Regions from separate parts of the Homo sapiens genome. Here region 1 is linked to region 2. The links come from fine-mapping of genetic effects on gene expression. A gene starts in region 2. The other region holds a variant in brackets. All regions are shown on one strand. Distances are between the middles of the regions.

Evidence for each region. PIP is the estimated chance that this variant, and not a neighbour inherited with it, causes the effect.
Region 1: its variant is fine-mapped to the expression of NPSR1 in prefrontal cortex (BrainSeq, PIP 0.92).

The regions. Positions count from the first base shown.
Region 1 is chr7:34,796,873-34,804,872 of GRCh38, reverse strand. All of the region lies in intron 3 of NPSR1 (neuropeptide S receptor 1), which reads right to left. It also overlaps a transcript of NPSR1-AS1 not described here. Among named protein-coding and RNA genes, the nearest start is that of NPSR1-AS1, 43 kb to the right of the region's middle. The variant C/T (reference allele first, on the strand shown) is at 3,022.
Region 2 is chr7:34,650,135-34,662,255 of GRCh38, reverse strand. It overlaps NPSR1 (neuropeptide S receptor 1), which reads right to left and starts at 4,038. Exons shown (of 9, transcript NM_207172.2): 1 at 3,697-4,038. The coding sequence starts at 3,843. The region is part of intron 2 of NPSR1-AS1 (NPSR1 antisense RNA 1); the gene reads left to right. RefSeq lists enhancers at 1-325, 1,162-1,999, 6,660-7,859, 9,789-10,374.

The DNA.
Region 1 (8,000 bases), 140 kb before region 2:
GTATATTAACCTTCTATTCTTCAGTGTTGCCATTTTTTTGCCTACTAGGTCTGGAAGTTTCTTTTTTGTTTGTTTTTATTTTTCTTGTCTATTCTTTCAGATTTTAATATAGAAAATTACAAATTTATTAACAAAGACATTTTTATTTCATCTTTTCCAATGTATAAACTTTTTATTTACTTTTCTTGTCCTGTTAAATTATCTAAGACATCTAGTTCAGTGTTGAATGGGAGTGGCGAGAGAGGACATCTTTACCTTGTTCCCAGTCTTAGGACAAAAGCACCTAATTTCTTGCCATTAAATATGAGGTTAACTGTATGGTTTTTTTAGATGCTGTTAATGAAGTTGAGGCAGTTTCTCTTTGTTTCCAGTTTGCTGAGTTTTTATTATAAATGGATGTTGAATTTTGTTAAATGCTTTTCCTGTGTCCATTGATGGAAAAATCACATAATTTTCCTTCTTTATCTTGTTTGTGTGATAGATTATATTAATTGATTTTTAAATATTTAACCAGATTTTCATGCCTGGAATAAATCTCACTTGGCCACGGACTATAATTCTTTCTATACATGATTATACCTTTAAACAAAAATTTAAGTTGCTAATATTTATTGAGAATTTTTGCATTTATGTTCATGAGGGATATTGTTCTGTAGTTTTCCTTTCTTTTAATATCATTGGTTTTAGAATTAGGGCATTTCTGGCCTCATGGAACAAGTCAGCAAGTATATGAATTAGGAATGGTTCCCTTTTCATCTGTTTTCTAGAGAAGACTGCAGATAATTGTTACCATTTTTTTTTTAAATGATTGACAGAATTCACTAATGAACCCATCTGGGCCTGGTGTTTTCTTTTGTGGAAGATTATTAATTATTAATTCAGTTTCTTTAGTAGGTATAGGCCTATTCAAATTATCTATTTCACTTTATGTGAGTTTTGGCAGATTGAGCTTTTCAAGGAATAGGTTCATTTCATCTAAGCTATCAAACTTGTGGGCATAGAGTTGTTTATGGTATTTATTTATCATTCTTTTAATGTCCACAGAATCAGTAGTGATGACCCCTCTTTCATTTCTGATATTAGTAACTTGTGGCTTCCCTCTTCTTTTTTTTTTTTCTACTCATGCTATCTTTTTTTAAATTTTATTTTATTACTATTATACTTTAAGTTTTAGGGTACATGTACACAATGTGCAGGTTAGTTACATATGTATACGTGTGCCATGCTGGTGTGGTGCACCCACTAACTTGTCATTTAGCATTAGGTATATCTCCTAATGCTATCCCTCCCCCCTCCTCCCACCCCACAACAGTCCCCAGAGTGTGATGTTCCCCTTCCTGTGTCCATGTGTTCTCATTGTCCAATTCCCACCTATGAGTGCGAACCTGCGGTGTTTGATTTTTTGTCCTTGCGATAGTTTACTGAGAATGATGATTTCCAATTTCATCCATGTCCCTACAAAGGACATGAACTCATCCTTTTTTATGGTTGCATAGTATTCCATGGTGTATATGTGCCACATTTTCTTAATCCAGTCTATCACTGTTGGACATTTGGGTTGGTTCCAAGTCTTTGCTATTGTGAATAGTGCCGCAATAAACATACGTGTGCATGTGTCTTTATAGCAGCATGATTTATAGTCCTTTGGGTAAATACCCAGTAATGGGATGGCTGGGTCAAATGGTATTTCTAGTTCTAGATCCCTGAGGAATCGCCACACTGACTTCCACAAGGGTTGAACTAGTTTACAGTCCCACCAACAGTGTAAAAGTGTTCCTATTTCTCCACATCCTCTCCAGCACCTGTTGTTTCCTGACTTTTTAATGATTGCCATTCTAACTGGTGTGAGATGGTAGCTCATTGTGGTTTTGATTTGCATTTCTCTGATGGCCAGTGGTGGTGAGCATTTTTTCATGTGTTTTTTGCCTGCATAAATGACTTCTTTTGAGAAGTGTCTGTTCTTGTCCTTCGCCCACTTTTTGATGGGGTTGTTTGTTTTTTTCTTGTAAATTTGTTTGAGTTCATTGTAGATTCTGGATATTAGCCCTTTGTCAGATGAGTAGGTTGCAAAAATTGTCTCCCATTTTGTAGGTTGCCTGTTCACTCTGATGGTAGTTTCCTTTGCTGTGCAGAAGCTCTTTAGTTTAATTAGATCCCATTTGTCAATTATGGCTTTTGTTGCCATTGCTTTTGGTGTTTTAGACATGAAGTCCTTGCCCATGCCTATGTCCTGAATGGTAATGCTTAGGTTTTCTTCTAGGGTTTTTATGGTTTTAGGTCTAACAATTTAGTCTTTAATCCATCTTGAATTGATTTTTGTATGAGGTGTAAGGAAGGGATCCAGTTTCAGCTTTCTACATATGGCTATCCAGTTTTCCCAGCACCGTTTATTAAATAGGGAATCCTTTCCCCATTGCTTGTTTTTCTCAGGTTTGTCAAAGATCAGATAGTTGTAGATATGCGGCGTTATTTCTGAGGGCTCTGTTCTGTTCCATTGATCTATATCTCTGTTTTGGTACCAGTACCATGCTGTTTTGGTTATTGTAGCCTTGTAGTATAGTTTGAAGTCAGGTAGTGTGATGCCTCCAGCTTTGTTCTTTTGGCTTAGGATTGACTTCGCGATGTGAGCTCTTTTTTGGTTCCATATGAAGTTTAAAGTAGTTTTTTCCAATTCTGTGAAGAAAGTCATTTGTAGCTTGATGGGGATGGCATTGAATCTATAAAATACCTTGGGCAGTATGGGCATTTTCACGATATTGATTCTTCCTACCCATGAGCATGGAATGTTCTTCCATTTCTTTGTATCCTCTTTTATTTCATTGAGCAGTGGTTTGTAGTTCTCCTTGAAGAGGTCCTTCACGTCACTTGTAAGTTGGATTCCTAGGTATTTTATTCTCTTTGAAGCAATTGTGAATGGGTGTTCCCTCATGATTTGGCTCTCTGATTGTCTGTTATTGGTGTATAAGAATGCTTGTGATTTTTGTACATTGATTTTGTATCCTGAGACTTTGCTGAAGTTGC[C/T]TATCAGCTTAAGGAGATTTGGGGCTGAGATGATGGGGCTAGATATACAATCATGTCATCTGCAAACAGGGACAATTTGACTTCCTCTTTTCCTAATTGAATACTCTTTATTTCCTTCTCCTGCCTAATTGCCCTGGCCAGAACTTCCAACACTATGTTGAATAGGAGTGGTGAGAGAGGGCATCCCTGTCTTGTGCCAGTTTTCAAAGGGAATGCTTCCAGTTTTTGCCCATTCAATATGATATTGGCTGTGGGTTTGTCATAGATAGCTCTTATTATTTTGAGATATGTCCCATCAATACCTAATTTATTGAGTGTTTTTAGCATGAAGGGTTGTTGAATTTTGTCAAAGGCCTTTTCTGCATCTATTGAGATAATCATGTGGTTTTTGTCTTTGGTTCTGTTTATATACTGGATTACATTTATTGATTTGCATATGTTGAACCAGCCTTCCATCCCGGGGATGAAGCCGACTTGATCATGGTGGATAAGCTTTTTGATGTGCTGCAGGATTCAGTTTGCCAGTACTTTATTGAGGATTTTCACATCGATGTTCATCAAGGATATTGGTCTAAAATTCTCTTTTTTTTGTTTTGTCTCTGCCAGGCTTTGGTATCAGGATGATGCTGGCCTTATAAAATGAGTTAGGGAGGATTCCCTCTTTTTCTATTGATTGGAATAGTTTCAGAAGGAATGGTACCAACTCCTCTTTGTACCTTTGGTAGAATTCAGTTGTGAATTGGTCTGGTCCTGGACTTTTTTTGGTTGGTAGCCTATTAATTATTGCCTCAATTTTGGAGCCTGTTAATGGTCTATTCAGAGATTCAACTTCTTCCTGGTTTAGTCTTGGGAGGGTGTATGTGTCCAGGAATTTATCCATTTCTTCTAGATTTTCTAGTTTATTTGCATGGAGGTGTTTATAGTATTCTCTGATGGTAGTTTGTATTTCTGCGGGATTGGTAGTGATATCCACATTATTATTTTTTATTGCATCTATTTGATTCTTCCCTCTTTTCTTCTTTATTAGTCTTGCTAGCAGTCTATCAATTTTGTTGATCTTTTCAGAAAACCAGCTCCTGGATTCATTGACTTTTCGAAGGGTTTTTGTGTCTCTATCTCCTTCAGTTCTGCTCTGATCTTAGTTATTTCTTGCCTTCTGCTAGCTTTTGAATTTGTTTGCTCTTGCTTCTCTAGTTCTTTTAATTGTGATGTTAGGGTGTCAATTTTAGATCTCTCCTGCTTTCTCTTGTGGGCATTTAGTGCTATAAATTTCCCTCTACACACTACTTTAAATGTGTCCCAGAGAATCTGGTACATAGTGTCTTTGTTCTTATTGGTTTCAAAGAACATCTTTATTTCTGCCTTCATTTCACTATGTACCCAGTAGTCATTCAGGAGCAGGTTATTCAGTTTCCATGTAGTTGTGCGGTTTTGAGTGAGTTTCTTAATCCTGAGGTCTAATTTGATAGCACTGTGGTCTGAGAGACAGTTTGTTGTGATTGCTGTTCTTTTACACTTGCTGAGGAGTGCTTTACTTCCAATTATGTAGTCAATTTTGGAATAAGTGCAATGCGGTGCTGAAAAGAATGTATATTCTGTTGTTTTGGGGTGAAGAGTTCTGTAGATGTCTATTAAGTCTGCTTGGTGCTGAGCTGAGTTCAAGTCCTGAATATCCTTGTTAACCTTCTGTCTCGTTGATCTGTCTAATATTGACAGTGGGGTGTTAAAGTCTCCCATTATTATTGTGTTGGAGTCTAAGTCTCTCTGTAGGTCTCTAAGGACTTGCTTTATGAATCTGGGTGCTCCTGTGTTGGGTGCATATATATTTAGGATAGTTGGCTCTTCTTGTTGAATTGATCCCTTTACCATTATGCAGTGGCCTTCTTTGACTCTTTTGATCTTTGTTGGTTTAAAGTCTATTTTATCAGACACTAGGATTGCAACCCCTGCTTTTTTTTGCTTTCCATTTTCTTGGTAGATCTTCCTCCATCCCTTTATTTTGAGCCTATGTGTATCTCTGCACATGAGATGAGTCTCCTGAATACAGCACACTGATGGGTCCTGACTCTTTATCCAATTTGCCAGTGTGTGTCTTTTAATTGGAGCATTTAGCCCATTTACATTTAAGGTTAATATTGTTATGTGTAAATTTGATCCTGTCATTATGATGTTAGCTGGTTATTTTGCTCGTTAGTTGATGCAGTTTCTTCCTACTCTCGATGGTCTTTACATTTTGTCATGGTTTTGCAGTGGCTGGTACCGGTTGTTCCTTTGCATGTTTAGTGCTTCCTTCAGGAGCTCTTTTAGGGCAGGCCTGGTGGTGACAAAAGTCTCTCAGCATTTGCTTGTCTGTAAAATATTTTATTTCTCCTTCACTTATGATGCTTAGTTTGGCTGGATATGAAATTCTGGGTTGAAAATTGTTTTCTTTAAGAATGTTGAATCCTCTTCTTTTCTTGATTAGCCTGGCTAGAAATTTATCAATTTTATTATCTTTTTAAAGAAACAGCTTTTGGTTTCATTGATTTTTCAGTATTGAATTCCTGTTTTAAATTTAATTATTAATTTTTTCTGATTTTAATTAAATTTTTAATTGAAAAACAAAATAATATACGTTTATGCTGTATAACGTGTTTATGTATACATGTGGAATGGCTAAGTAAAGCTAATTAACATATTCATTACCTCACATACTTACTCTGCAGAGAAAATTTAAATTCTACTTCAATTTAATAATTTATGCTCCAATTTTTATCATTTCTTTTATTCTGCTTTCTTTAGGCCTACATTTCTTTTCTTTCTCTAGTTTCCTAAGGCCTAAGATTAGTTTATTAATATCACATTTTTTTATTTTCTAATATATCCATTCAGTGTTATAAATTTCACTCAAAGAACTGCTTTTACTGCATCCTACAAACTATGATGTTACATTTTCATTTATTTCAAAATATTTCTTGAGATATCTTCTTCAATTCACTTATTACTTAGAAGTGTGTTGTTCAATCTCCAAACAGTTTGAAAATTTTCAGCTATCCTTCTGTTACTGATTTTTAGTTCTATTCTGTGTGTTCTGAGAGTATACTTTGTGTAATTTCTATTTTTTTACATTGTTAAAATGTGTTTTATGGTCCATATGAAGTTTCTCTTGATGGAAATCGCATATAAGTTTGATAAGAAGATATATTCTGCTATTACTGGATGAAGTATTCTACAAATGCCAATTAGATCCATTTAATTAATAGTTCAGTTCACTTTAACTGATAGCTGTTCAGTTAAATTGTATTTCTCTTTGCATTCAACCCCCCGCCCCTTTTTCTTAGACAGAGTCTCACTCTGTCACCCAGGCTGGAGTGTAGTGGTACAATCTTGGATCACTGCAACCTTCGCCTTCCGGGTTCAAGAGATTCTCCTGCTTCAGCCTCCCGAGTAGCTGGGATTACAGGTGCGTGCCACCACATCTGGCCTATTTTTGTATTTTTAGTAGACACGGGGTTTCACCATGTTGGTCAGGCTGGCCACAAGCTCCTGACCTCAAGTGATCCACCTGCCTCGGCCTCCCAAAGTTCTGGGATTACAGGCATGGGCCACCCGTGCCTGGGCTGCATCTCTTTTAATATTGTCATTCAGTTCACTTATCCTAATAAGTGGTAATAATGATTACCAATGCATTATTGCTATTTTTGTGTCGAGCAACTATCTATAGGTCAATTAAGAGTAAGAAAAGTAGCTTTAATTTGCCTTCATTTATTCCTTCTCAATTGCTCTTCCTTTATATTGATTTGTGCTTATTATTTTATCATTTTCCCCTTTATCTGAAGAACTTCTTTTAGCATTTTTTGTAAGAAAAGTTTACTTTTGAGAAATTTCCTGTTTTTGTATGTCTGAGAAAGTCTTTATTTCTTCTTCACTTTTGAAGAATAATTTCACTTGATAGAGAATTCTAGGTCAGGGGGATTTGTATTCTTTTCCCACTTTAAATATTTTATTATACTATCTTCTTACTTGGCTGATTTCTGATAAGTCAGAGGAAATTCTTATTATTGTTTATTTATCTGTAAGTTTCCCCCTCAACTTCTATCAGGATTTTATCTTTGTCTTTGGTTTTCTGCAGTTTGAATATGATATGCCTAGAGGTACATTTTTTCTGACATTTATTTTGCTTTGGTGTTCTCTGAGCTTCCTGGATCTCTGGATTGGTGTTTGCCATTAATTTAGAAAATTTTTCATCTTTTATTTCTTCAAATACTTCTTCTGCTCTTTTCTTTTTTTGGTATTTCTGTTATATGTGTGTGCTACACTTTGTGTAATTGTCCCACAGTTCTTGGGAATTCTATTACATGTTTAAAAGTAGATTTTATTATTAGAGCAGTTTTAGATTAATAACATAATTGAGCAGAAGTTACAGATTTCCCATAAACCCCCTGTCCCCCATACACAGAGCCTCACTCACCATCACGCTTCCATGCAAGAGTGGTATATTTGTTACAGTGGATGAACCTACATTGACACATCATTATCACCCAAAGTTCATAGTTTACATTAGGATTCACTCTTGGTGTTATACATTGTATTTTGACAAAAGTATAGACATGTGTCCACTGTTATAGTATAGTACAGAGTAGTTCTACTGCCCTTTGTTCCCCCTCTGTGCTCTGCCTCCCTCTCCCCAAGCCCTGGCAACCACTAATGTTTTCACTTTCTCCAGAGTTTTGCCTTTTCCAGAATGTCATAAAGTTGGAATCTACAGTATGTAGCTTCTCAGACTGTCACTTTTGCTTACTAATATGCATAAATTTCTTCCATGTCTTTGCATGAGACACGTAACCTTTAAATAAGCTTGACAGCTCATTTCTTTTTAGCACTGAATAATATTTCATTGTATGGATGTACCACAGCTTATTTCTCCATTTACCTACCAAAGGACATCTTGGTTGCTTCCAAGTTTGGAAAATAGGAATAAACATGATATAAACGTTTGT
Region 2 (12,121 bases):
TATAAACAATAGACTAATTGTGTATCACTTGTAACTATCCACCGAAGGAGGCGCAATAAAAGATTGTTATTAGGTGATATTTAGCAGTCTTAGTTCATGTTTCTGTGCTCACCTATGAGTAATAAAACTAAGTTTCATTTACATTATTTTATAATTTAGATAATTCACTAATCAAGACAGGTCTCCCTCCCAGTTACTTCTAATTAGGTTTCTCATTAAGTATCAGAGATTCAGGAAACATTGCTGGTGAATTCACCAGCAAAATTAAGGGCTTTCTGTGTGAAGAGTTTTGTATTTGTTTTGCATTTGGACAGCCTTATATTCAGATACCTCATTTATTTTCTGATGAGCTGGTTCCCATTTCCCCTTGAAAACTTCTGGTAGATTCTTGAAACGCATATAATTCCTTAGTGCCAAGACCTAGGTCTTGAAGAGGTGAGCTGGATGTGATCTTAAAAGCACACAAAACTGGAAACTGTGAAGGGAGCCAGGGTCTGAGCTGAGAATCTTGAACCCAAGACCACGTAGGGTTAGTTACACAAGGCCCATGGTGGAAGATGGGATGGGTGAACCCACCCTAGACCTCCCTGCTCATTTCCAAGAGCCTCACATGCTTAGGAAGGTAGAGTAGGTTAGAGGGGTGGAAGCAGAAGCCAGAATTCAAGGGTGGAGGTGGGAGGAAGGAACAGACTCTAAGCCTGTGAAGGAAGTGCCAGTAAGATCTAGACGGGGTGCTTTGTCTCCTCCTGAAAGAGCTTTGGAGTTCAGAGGATAAGAACTAGAATGTGAGATGGGAAACGAAGTCAGGAGCCTAGGTAAGTGGACGGAGCAAGACAGCTGAGACTAGGTAAGGCTGCCATGCAATAGAGATGGATTCCCCAGGGCTGGACCAGGTACTTGGTACCAGCTCATGGTGCCTCAGCTAATTCCATACCCCACCCACTGGAATCTAGAACCGACTTTGGTCTCATTGGCTTAGAAATGGAATAGGGACAAGCTGAACATGCTTGCAGAAAGGGACCTGGGTGAGTATAGAGACCAGGCAGGGTAGGGGCTGATGGGTGGAAACTTGGTTAATGAGAGCCCCCACCCACCTCTGTCACAGGGAATACATGCTTTCTGTTGCTTATTTGACAAAATGTTGGTAATTGGAAGAAAAAACACATCACAATTTGTTTATGCAGTCAATGTTTATTGAGTATGACTAACATAGTGGTAGGTCCTGGGAGAAAATATGAAACAAATATAAGGCATTCATTTTACTCAAGGAGCTTGAGGACTGTAACACATTCAGCCAACACATATGGAAATAGCAGTTTAAGACAGAACTGCATTAAGTGGCAAGAAGAGAGGTACAGTCCGTGACACTAATGAAGCTCAGGGAGGGATGAGTCAGGGAGGGATGAGTCAAGGAGGGCTTCATGGAGGAAGCAACCCAAGCTGAGCTTTATAGACTGGGTAAAATTGAGATAAACAGATGAAGATGGAAGGCAGGACCGGAAGGAAAGATACACCATGGATTGTGAGAATTAAATGAGATACTTCACAGAAGTCACTTGCTAAGTGAGTCTTGCTATGACTCTTGGCACCAAGAATGCCCAAAGTAAATGAGACGTATGGTTGTTGCTGTTATTTCTGTGACTTTTACTGCTGCTGCTATTTTTATTTTCATGCTATTTTTTTTACTGCTTTTGATGAAGGCAATGGGGATTAAAGGGGATACATCTGGGAGACAGTAAAGGGAGCATGGTTTCGAATTTCTTCTCTAGAAGTATGTCAGATAAAATGAATTGCAGTGAACAAGGGCTTGCATTGGAACTATTTCTGTATCAACAATGCATTAGAATTGCTTGTGCCCAAAGGGGATCATAGAAAAAAAGTTACACTAAGAAATATAAGCTAAGTTCTCACAAATACCACCAGTAATCACTGTGTAACTAAAAATCACAGGGTTTTAGTCAATACACGTATCTCTCAAATAATGAATCTGAGCATTCTAAGCTCCTGGCCAAACACAATTCCTGTCTTTCTGCTTTTCTCCTTGTCCAGTGGTCCAGCCGTTTTGCTGCAAACATATCAATAGGAATCAGCTAGAGATGCTGTGATTCTCTTTAGTGTCTGGCGATGATGTTGCTAGGATAGAGAGGACAAACACTCATAGAGAGCAAGGTGGGATTTGTTTCTTCACATATTCCAAATATCCCTGTAGGTGCTATATTCAAAAAATGGCAAATGAGATTTCAGCTGAGATTGATTCTTGCCAGAGTCTCAGAATAACCACCTTATTGCTGATTTTATTCCCTTTGCAATGGAGGGCCTCTCTTCATTCTGCTTGCTATCATGTTCTAAGAATATCAAAGAGGCTACACAGGCAGCAATACTGAGTGGAGTCCTGTGCTTCCTGGGTGCACACAGCCTGCCAAGACAGACTCTCTGGGTCTGCAGGCTGATTTCATAAAGGGGATTATTCAGTCGACATTAAGTGGCAACAAACTCTAATTTTACTTTCTAAGCTACATCGTGGAGCTGTGCAGCTGGGCTGCGTATGTGCATATGCATTAGGAGGTGATTCCAAGGGACAGGGTTTCACTGAAGCCAGTGGAGGAGTAGTTTGCTCAGGTTCTGCTTTGCTGCAGGATCATTAGGGCCCTGGAAGTTTAAGTCTGACTCCTGGGACAGCACCCTGCTGAAAGTTTTATTCTGAATATTTGCAAAAGAAGTGAACTTCCAGTAGGGAGGTGGATGTTACAGTAATGCTATCTCATTGTGTAAAAACCAAATCATTTCAAGAACATACAGAGGATTAACAACAACAACAACAACAAAACCCAACAAAGCAACAACTAGAATCTTTTTGAAGTATTTTTTCTTCAGTGGAAAGGACCAGTTTGAGACCTGTGAATTATTGCAATGACTAAACATATCGTTAGACAGGTGTGAAATAACCTGACAACCCAGCATTCTGAGGCAAGAAGCAGGAAACTGTTCTTTTCCCAAATGTGCGGTTCATTTCTGTCCACAAGATCTTGTTGCGGAATAAGAAACAATACAGTATTAGCTTAATGAAGATCCTTCCTCAGTGTGGCCCTTGGATACTTTGAAGGTGAAACTCACCAAACTCTCTGTCCTTCATTTGTTCTAGGAGGTAATTTGTTGCAAATGGTGGCATCATCAACTACCCTCAAAGAAATATATTCCTCACTGATGTTTAATGAAAAGGATCATCAAAGAAAGTGTCGTCCTTCCTGCCTTATTCAATGTTGTTTCTCATCATATCAGTCACTGTCCTGGGGATTGTGAGCTTTCCGCATCTCTGGTGTTCCTAGCAAAAAACTCATAGCTCTAACCCCTACTAGAAACAGACATTTCAAGTACTGCTATAGGATTAATTAAAAGTGCTTTCACCTAAGGAAAGGGGGAAAGTAAAAATCATCCACTCATAAATGTTACTCACGATTCACACATTTCCAGCAGCATCAGAAAGAAAAACGTCACCTGTATTCCTAAGAAACTACAATCTAGGTCTCTGCACACTACAGCTTGTTGTTTTAGCACTTCAGACTTTTAAAAATCCTTTTTAGTAAAGAAAATAACACTCATTCACAATACTGGCTATGATACTTCAATTGACACTCTTAAGTTCCAGCAGTCTCATTGTTATAAGTCAGTGTTCAGAGTCGCAGGCAAGAAACTTACCTTAAAGGAGTAGTAGAAGGAACCCCATTCCTTTCCTTCCACCACTTCAGTAAAAGTCACTGTTTCAGTGCAAGCCACTGGGGAAGAATCCAGCGTCTGCCCGGTCCCACTGGAATCGAAGCTGCCCTCTGTGAAGTTGGCTGGCATGGCTCAGGCGGGGTTGAGCCTCACTGTCCTTGCTCCTGCAGCTGAGTGAGGGAGTCCAGCTTGCCTCCTGAGAGCTGGGCAGCAGCTGCAGCTCTGCTGAACGGAGGCACAGAGCCCTCCCTGAGCCCACCTCACTGAAGAGCTCTGCCTGATGACAGGGAGGATCTACGTGCTGCTCTCTCCTTGGCAATTACCACCAGGTAGCCAGCATAGCACAACCCTCATCACCCCACAGTCCCACCCAGGGCCAGGGCCCCACCCCAAGAGCAAGGTGGAGCTCCCCATAGCCATCGACATGGCTCCCTGGATGAGACCCCTGTTCTGTTTTGCTTTTCCTTACTTCCACGGTGGACCCCCACTTCTGCTCCAGCTTCAACAATAAAGGAATTTGGACTAATCAGTAGGTGCATGAATTCGGGTCATGTTTCCACTTCTGAAATCAAATTATAATTATGCATTTGTTTCAGCTGAGGTTGCTTTCTGACTTAAAGCCTCACCTTGCCATCTACTGTGTCATGTGCTCTTATTTCCGTAAGTGTAGGCAAATAGTACGTTTGTATTTCACACCCTTAGTTCTATCTAGGTGTTCACAGGGCGGTTCTCAGAGAAACATGAGGTCTGTGTTTGTCAATAAGCTACAACACCTTGTGATATGACTGGGAGGGGCCTGGTGAAGATTCTTACTGCTTTCAGTATATTCACCTCAGCTTCTACCTAGGACCAATACTCAGGGCGAGGGTAGAAAGGAGGTAATGCAGCATCCTGGGCACCACAGACAGGGCTAGGCGAGAATACTAACAGCTATTCCTGTTTCACAAAAAACCTGCAAAGCACATTTACACGTTCTTTCATTCAGTTTCCCAAACAACCTTGTGAGATAGGCAGGGAAGGTATCTTTATGTTCTCCTTTATGCTAGCAGAGAGTGGCTCCAATAGGTGAAATGACTTGCCCAAGATCCCGCAGCTGCTGATGTAAATGAGCTGATAACCCATCTCCAGAACTTCCTAGACAGTGGTGCTTTTACTGTAACAGACTGGTTTGCATCAAATCTCAAATGTCTATGGGGCATGAAGGTAACATGAATGAGGGTAGCAGGCCAGGTATAAAACAATGGGAACTAAGCTGCTTATATGACAACCAAGCACAATACCTGATTCCTCACATTGAGAACACTCTGTGAACCAACCAGGTCCAGCCACTGGTTTATGGCACCTGGAATAAGAGGTAGTAGCTTTAGTGGCCACCACTAAAGAACCTGGCCCCCATGAGATCTCCTGGGGAAGCTTTATTATAAACCATCGAGCCCCAAGGAGGGCACAGTGCTCTAGCAATGAGAAGGCATTGAGTCTATAATGAAGGGCAGCAAACAGAAGTGAGTTGTGTAGAAAACTGGATAAGCTGTGGACTCTTAAGGAAAGGTTCAAAACAGGACAACAACTCAATAGCAAAACAAGTGCAGCATATTCCAACTAACAAATGAGTATGAAGATAGGCTCAACCATATTAAAAATTAAGGAAAATAACTAAAACCAGTAAGAATGTTTACCTATTATTATAGTGAAAGCTAGCGTGTGGCTATCCCCAAGTGCTGACAAGATTGAAGGGAAACGGGTGTACATCTTTACTTCTGGTGAGAGTTAGTTGATGTGGTAATTTTTGAAAAGCAATTCAGCAGTATTTAGTAAAGCTGGAATTACATATCCTCTAATGCATTGTTCCATTTCTAGATGCTAATAATTTTTCATCTCTATCTGGGTTACTTACATATGCTCAATTCACATAAATTCTTTGCACTACATACTTAAAACATATGCACTTTTCTGTAGGTATGTTTTACTTCAAGAAAATGTTTATAAGACAAAATCTGTGAGGAACTCCTGGGAGAAGGTAGAAGCTGGTTAGGTCACAGTGTGGTAGGGGCAGAGTGAGAGAAAGTGGCAGATGCCATGGACAGAGAATAGGTGGGGAGAGAGAGCTTTCTGGTTGTTTCCTTTTCTCTCCATTCATGATCCAGATAGACCATTGTTTAACCTGTGGCCACCCAAGAGAAACATTTATGTATCTATACAAGCAGTCATGCAAAATGATGCCTTCGCAAAGTATTAAAGAAACGTATCAGAAGCAACCTAAATATTCATGATGTCAAAATCAATGAATCATCCCAAACTGGAAACCACCCAAATGTCCATCAACTGGATGAATAAATTTTCATGTAGTCACACAATGAAATACTATATAGCAATAAGAAAATGATCTGTAGCCAAAAATAACATAAATGGAACTTACAAACATAATATTAAGCAAAATAATAAATATGGTTGTTTCCTTTTTTTTTTTTTTTTTTTTTGAGATGGAGTCTTTTTCTGTTGCCCAGGCTGGAGTGCAATGGCACGATCTCGGCTTACTGCAAGTTCTGCCTCCTGGGTTCACGCCATTCTCCTGCCTCAACCTCCCAAGTAGCTGGGACTACAGGCGCCTGCCACCACGCCTGGCTAATTTTTTGTATTTTTAGTAGAGACAGGGTTTCACCATGTTAGCCAGGATGGTCTTGATCTCCTGACCTCGTGATCCACCTGCCTCGGCCTCCCAAAGTGCTGGGATTACAGGTGTGAGCCACTGTGCCCAGCCCTTTCATCTTTATAAAGTATAACTGTGCATGTATATAACACAATGGAATACTATACAGTAGTTAGAAGAAAGTTGAGTGGACAAGAAGACAAACTAACATGGTATAATGATTAACTGTATGTGTCAGTTTGACTGGGCCATGGAGTGCCCAAATAGTTAAACATTATTCTGGGTGTGTCTGTGAGGTGGCTCTGGATGAGATTAGCATTTGAATTGGCAGACTGAGTAAAGCAGATTGCCCTCCCTAATGTGAATGGCTCTCATCCATTCAATTAAAGGCCTGAATAGAATAAATAGGCTAATTCTTCTGTGAAAAGCGGGGAACTCCTCTTGCCTGACTTCTTTGAGCTGGGACATTGTTTTTTTTCTGGCTTTTGGGCTTGAACTGAAACATCAGTTCTTCCTGGGTCTCAAGCCTGCCAGCTTTCAGACTGGAACTACACCATTGGCTCTCCTGGTTCTCAGGCCTTCATACTCAGACTGGAACTACACATCAGCTCTCCTGGGTCTCCAGCTTGCTTTCATGCGCGTCCGTGTGAAGAGAGCACCAAACAGGCTTTGTGTGAGCAACATGGCTGTTTATTTCACCTGGGTGCAGGTGGGCTGAGTCTGAAAAGAGAGTCAGCAAAGGGTGGTGGATTATCATTAGTTCTTATACGTTTTGGGATAGGCGGTGAAGTTAAGAGCAATGTTTTGCGGGCAGGGGTGGATCTCACAAAGTACATTCTCAAGGGTGGGGAGAATTACAAAGAACCTTCTTAAGGGTGGGGGAGATTACAAAGTACCTTGATCAGTTAGGGTGGGGCAGGAACAAATCACAATGGTGGAATGTCATCAGTTAAGGCGGGGCAGGGCCTTTTCACTTCTCTTGTGATTCTTCAGTTACTTCAGGCCATCTGGGCGTATACGTGCAAGTCACAGGGGATGCGATGGCTTGGCTTGGGCTCAGAGGCCTGACACTTGCTGCTTGCAGATCTTGGGACTTCTTAGTCTCTATTAATTGTGTGAATGATTATTTCATATTGTATTCCCTATAATAAATTTCTCTCTCTGTTTCTCTCTCTCCCCCCTCCCTACACACACACACACACACACACACACACACACACACACACACCCCTCCTATTAGTTCTATTTCTGTTTCTCTGGAGAACTCTAATACACATTCTTACCTGAACTCATTTGTAGAAATTCTGTCTCTTCCTTTTCTAGATGAAGGTCACCTTTCCCAGGTTACTGAGTCCCTTCTTTTCTGCTAGGAGAAGCTTTGCCTCAGTCTCATATCAGCCACATACTACTGGGAGATACTTGGTAAGAACATTTTTAAGTTTTGACCTTTCTAGTGTGACAAGCTTTGCCCATGATACAGGCATTTTAGCTTTAGCAGGGATGGAGAGTTCTGGAAGAGAATGCTCAAGGTTCCATGGATCCCCCCAGCTTCCTGCTTCATACATTCACTATGGGAGCCCTGGCCACAATTTTTATATCCTTGAACAAATACATCATTTTCCTGTAATGCTAAAAGAGAAGAGTTCATAAGCTTTGGAATAAAAGTTATAGGCAAAATATTTAAACTTGTTTTTTATATATGTATTTTTAATGGTTATTGGGGTCCATCTCAGTAGGGATTGACACTCTGCCTCATTGCAGGGAAAGTCCAAAAGTTTCTGTTAGTGCTATGTAAATGAGAAAGTTCTGGAGCTTGCAGGTATTTCCTGACTGTCCACAGTGATGCATTTGTTAGCTAACATTTTGTTAGTTGGCCTTTTCATATATGAACTGTGCCCTGGGCTGTCAAAATGATCTGGATTCAAACTTGGCTCTGCTATGTCCTGTCTGTGAGTCCCTGGATTATTTACTTAACAGTTCTAAGCCTCTTTCTTCTCATCTGTTAACTGAGAGACTGTGGTGCCTGCATCATGAAGGTATTGGAAATCAAATGAGATCTAATTGTCTTCCTTCTTGTCTTCTGCTTAATCGTTACTATTTTTAAAAATGTGAACAATTTTTCCTTGACTCTTTCTTTAGTCTCCAAATTCCTGAATGGAGACACTGCACCTTTTCTCCTTGTATCCTCTGACAAGTTTGAACTTTACCAGAACCCTGTGATCCTGGAAAACAGAAAAGGTTAATAAATGCCCCCACTGCTTTGTGTTCCAGAAAGGGCTTTGTGCAGCTAACCATTATTCCCCATGTGACTTAAATCAGATTCACCAATGCTGCCTTGTGGGCATTGATATGGTTCAAATGTTTTGTCCCCTTCAAATCTCATGTTGAAATGTGACCTCTAATGTTGGAGGTGGGGCCTGGTGGGAGGTGTTTCGATCATGGGGGTGGATCCCTCATGAAGGGCTTGGTGCTGTTCTTGCAGTAATGAGTGAGTTCTTGATTTTAGTTCTCATGAGATCTGGTTGTTCAAAGAGCCTGGCACCTCCTCCTTTCTCTCTTGCTCCCTCTCTTGCCATGTGGCGTGCCTGTTCCTACTTTGCCTTCTGCCATGATTGTAAGCTTCCCAAGGCCCTCACCAGAAGCAAATGCTGACACTATGCTTCTTGTACAGCCTGCAGAACTGTGAACCAAATGAACCTCTGTTCTTTTTAAATTACCCAATTTCACATATATTTTTGTAGCAACACAGAGTAAATAGCCATCAACACTTATAACAAGGCCAGACGCAGACCCTCTAAATTCCTTTTGTTTGTCTCATAAATGATATTAGCTAAGCTGTTTTGTCCCCACTGATCAATCAGAAAAAAATGCAGGCTAAACCAACTTTGGTTAAGATTCTTTGCTTCTCCTAGGCTGAACTTTGTCCCGCCCTCAGCCTCAGCCAGCACACAGCTCCTCCTCCACAGCCTCTCCCTGGAGTACGCTGCAGAGTTCAGGGTAAAATATTCCCTCATCTACTGGCAGATCGTGTCACTCCTGTCATGGTACTTCTCCACACCTGGTTCTTTCTAGCCTTGTCTATTCTTTCCTATGAAAGAGAATCTCTTTTTTCCTAACCCTTGAGATACTTCCAGATCTCATGATAAGAATGTTCTCCAAACTACAACAGCCCCTTTCTCCTTACTGTAATGGTCCAGTCTCCCTCTTGCACTAATCCTTTCGAATAAAGTCTCTTTATTTTATTTTATTCTATTTTAAGATGGAGTCTTGCTCTGTTGCCAGGCTGGAGTGCACTGGCGTGATCTCAGCTTATTGCAATCTCCGCCTCCCGGGTTCAAGGAATTCTCCTGTCTCAGCCTCCCCAGTAGCTGGGACTACAGGCCCATGGCACCACGCCCAGCTAATTTTTGTATTTTTAGTAGAGACTGGGTTTCACCATTTTGTCCAGGATGGTCTCGATTTCTTGACCTTGTGATCCGCCCGCCTCGGCCTCCCGAAGGGCTGGGATTACAGGCGTGAGCCACCCACCGCACCCAGCCTGAATAAAGTCTCTTCTTACCTAAGTGCCAAATTGTTTTTGGACATTCTCAGAGTGTTTAAAAATGCATGCTGTATTGAATTAAAATATGTTATTAGCTCAAAATTCAATCACAAAAACTGTATTAAGCAATTAATATATGAGGAATAAGTTGTATCAGATTTTGCCAGAGCTTCCCTGACACATGCAAATTCATGGTTTGGTTGGGTAGAATAGACACAAATGCTCTCAGTTAAATAACAAAAGAAGAGTAAAATAACACAAGCATAGTAGGTGATAAAGGCAGTGTGATTAATCTCTGAGTAGCAAAGAGAATTATTCTTTTGAGTTCCAAGGAAGCAGAGCTCATAGTTTTGAGGTTTAAATTTGGGCTTGGGTGTTTTTAGTAACTTTGGATGAAGAACACAAGTTTTATTTTCCCACCTGAGTGCAGAATGGTAAGTGTGGATTGTAGAGCAAAGGAAATTAACTTCCACCAGTGGGATTTTGATCCTCTGATATCAGAATGTGTCACAGCCTGCAGAGATTAAATTTCTCAGCATTAGGTGTAAACAGACACTCACTCCCATGACTTTGCTTTCAAAAAAATTAGCTGACATTTAAGCTTGAAATAGCCATGTTGTTGCACCCACTATTTAATTCAGATATATCACAGATGCTGCATTTGGATGTTTATTCTATAAAAAAAACTGTGTAAAAGTGGATTGGTTGGAAGAGTTGTAATTACTCAGATAGGATCAGGAAAGAATATGGGAGAAGGTAAAGGGGGAACTCCATCTCACCACTGTGCTGGGTGCCTGAAAGATGTCACAACATTTAATTCCCATAATATTTCCTTAAAGTAGGTGCATATTTCCCCATAGTGAAGGTGCGGAGAGCTCTTGGTAAGGAATAACTCTTCAAGTAGAGAAATAAGATAAGAAATGACCATTGACTTTCCACACCAGTTAACTTTTCATAGTACCTTAGTTTTGGCTTGGAATTCTGATATGGTGGTGAGGGTTCTAAATCATTAGTATGAAATAAGAGTATCCTCAGCATAGCATTAAACAGAAAATTGCTTTGAGGGCAGAGAAATTCTTGGGATCCTGCAGAAAAGACAAATGTGGTATATTATATTTAGTAATTGCTTGCTGTAATGGGTACAAGAGGTTATACCTGTTACAATGATTAAGAAATACAGTCCCTAAAGAAATGGAATGCAATGTTCTACTTAAAGGAGGACACTAGAATAAATATGATTTCACAGTCCATACTTTTAGGGTTGTATTTTTCTAATTATAACACCAAACTGTAGTTCCTTTAAATAAATACCTGAAGATGTAAAGACACAACTTATATTAACTGCTAATGTATTCCTCAGTGCCCAATTGTGATTCTTATATTCAGCTCTGCATTCTGCTTTTTAATTCCACTTGTTGTAGATTTTTGTATTAAGGTATATATTTTAGTGTCTCTTTGTTCTGCTAACATGAAATGTGTTATGATTTATTCAATCATCCCTATAATAAAGATTAAAGTTTTTTCTGAGTTTCCAGAAACAGCACCGAACAAACATTCTTGAGCTCTTGTCTGATTATTTCCTCAAAATATTTTATTGAAGTACAATTGCTATTACTACATCTTCATCAATTCCTTCTTTTTCTTTCTTAATTTTGCTGTCTTTAAAAAATCTGAATGCTTGGATTAAATACTTAACGTTTATTTTCATTCATTCATATTTATAATTGAAGCATTTAAGGCAACGAATTTTCCTCTGAATCTGCTTTTAGCTGTGACCTGGAGAGTCTGATATGTGGTATTTTCATTTTCATTATTTTCTACAATAAATACAATGTGTGTCTGATTTCTTCTTAGACCAAAGAATTACTTGGAAGTGACTTCTAAATGTTTATATTTTTGTTCAGTTTAATTTCAAGTTTTGTTTATTTCTTGAATTATATTTTGAAGGCAAGTTCTATCTTTTGAAATATTTTAAAACATTATATATATATGTTCAGTTTTTGAAAAAATACCTGGAATTCTATTTATAAGATAATTTCACAAATGCCTGTGTGTGTGCACATGTGCGCACGCACACACACATATTTTTAGAAGCATTTTATTAGGTACTCTTAGTTCTACTGAAGTCTCTAGAATCTCATTTCTTTACCTTTTAGCTTTTGTCTACCTAATTTGTCAAAGGCACAGAAAGGTTTGTTTATGTTTTCCATTATTATTGG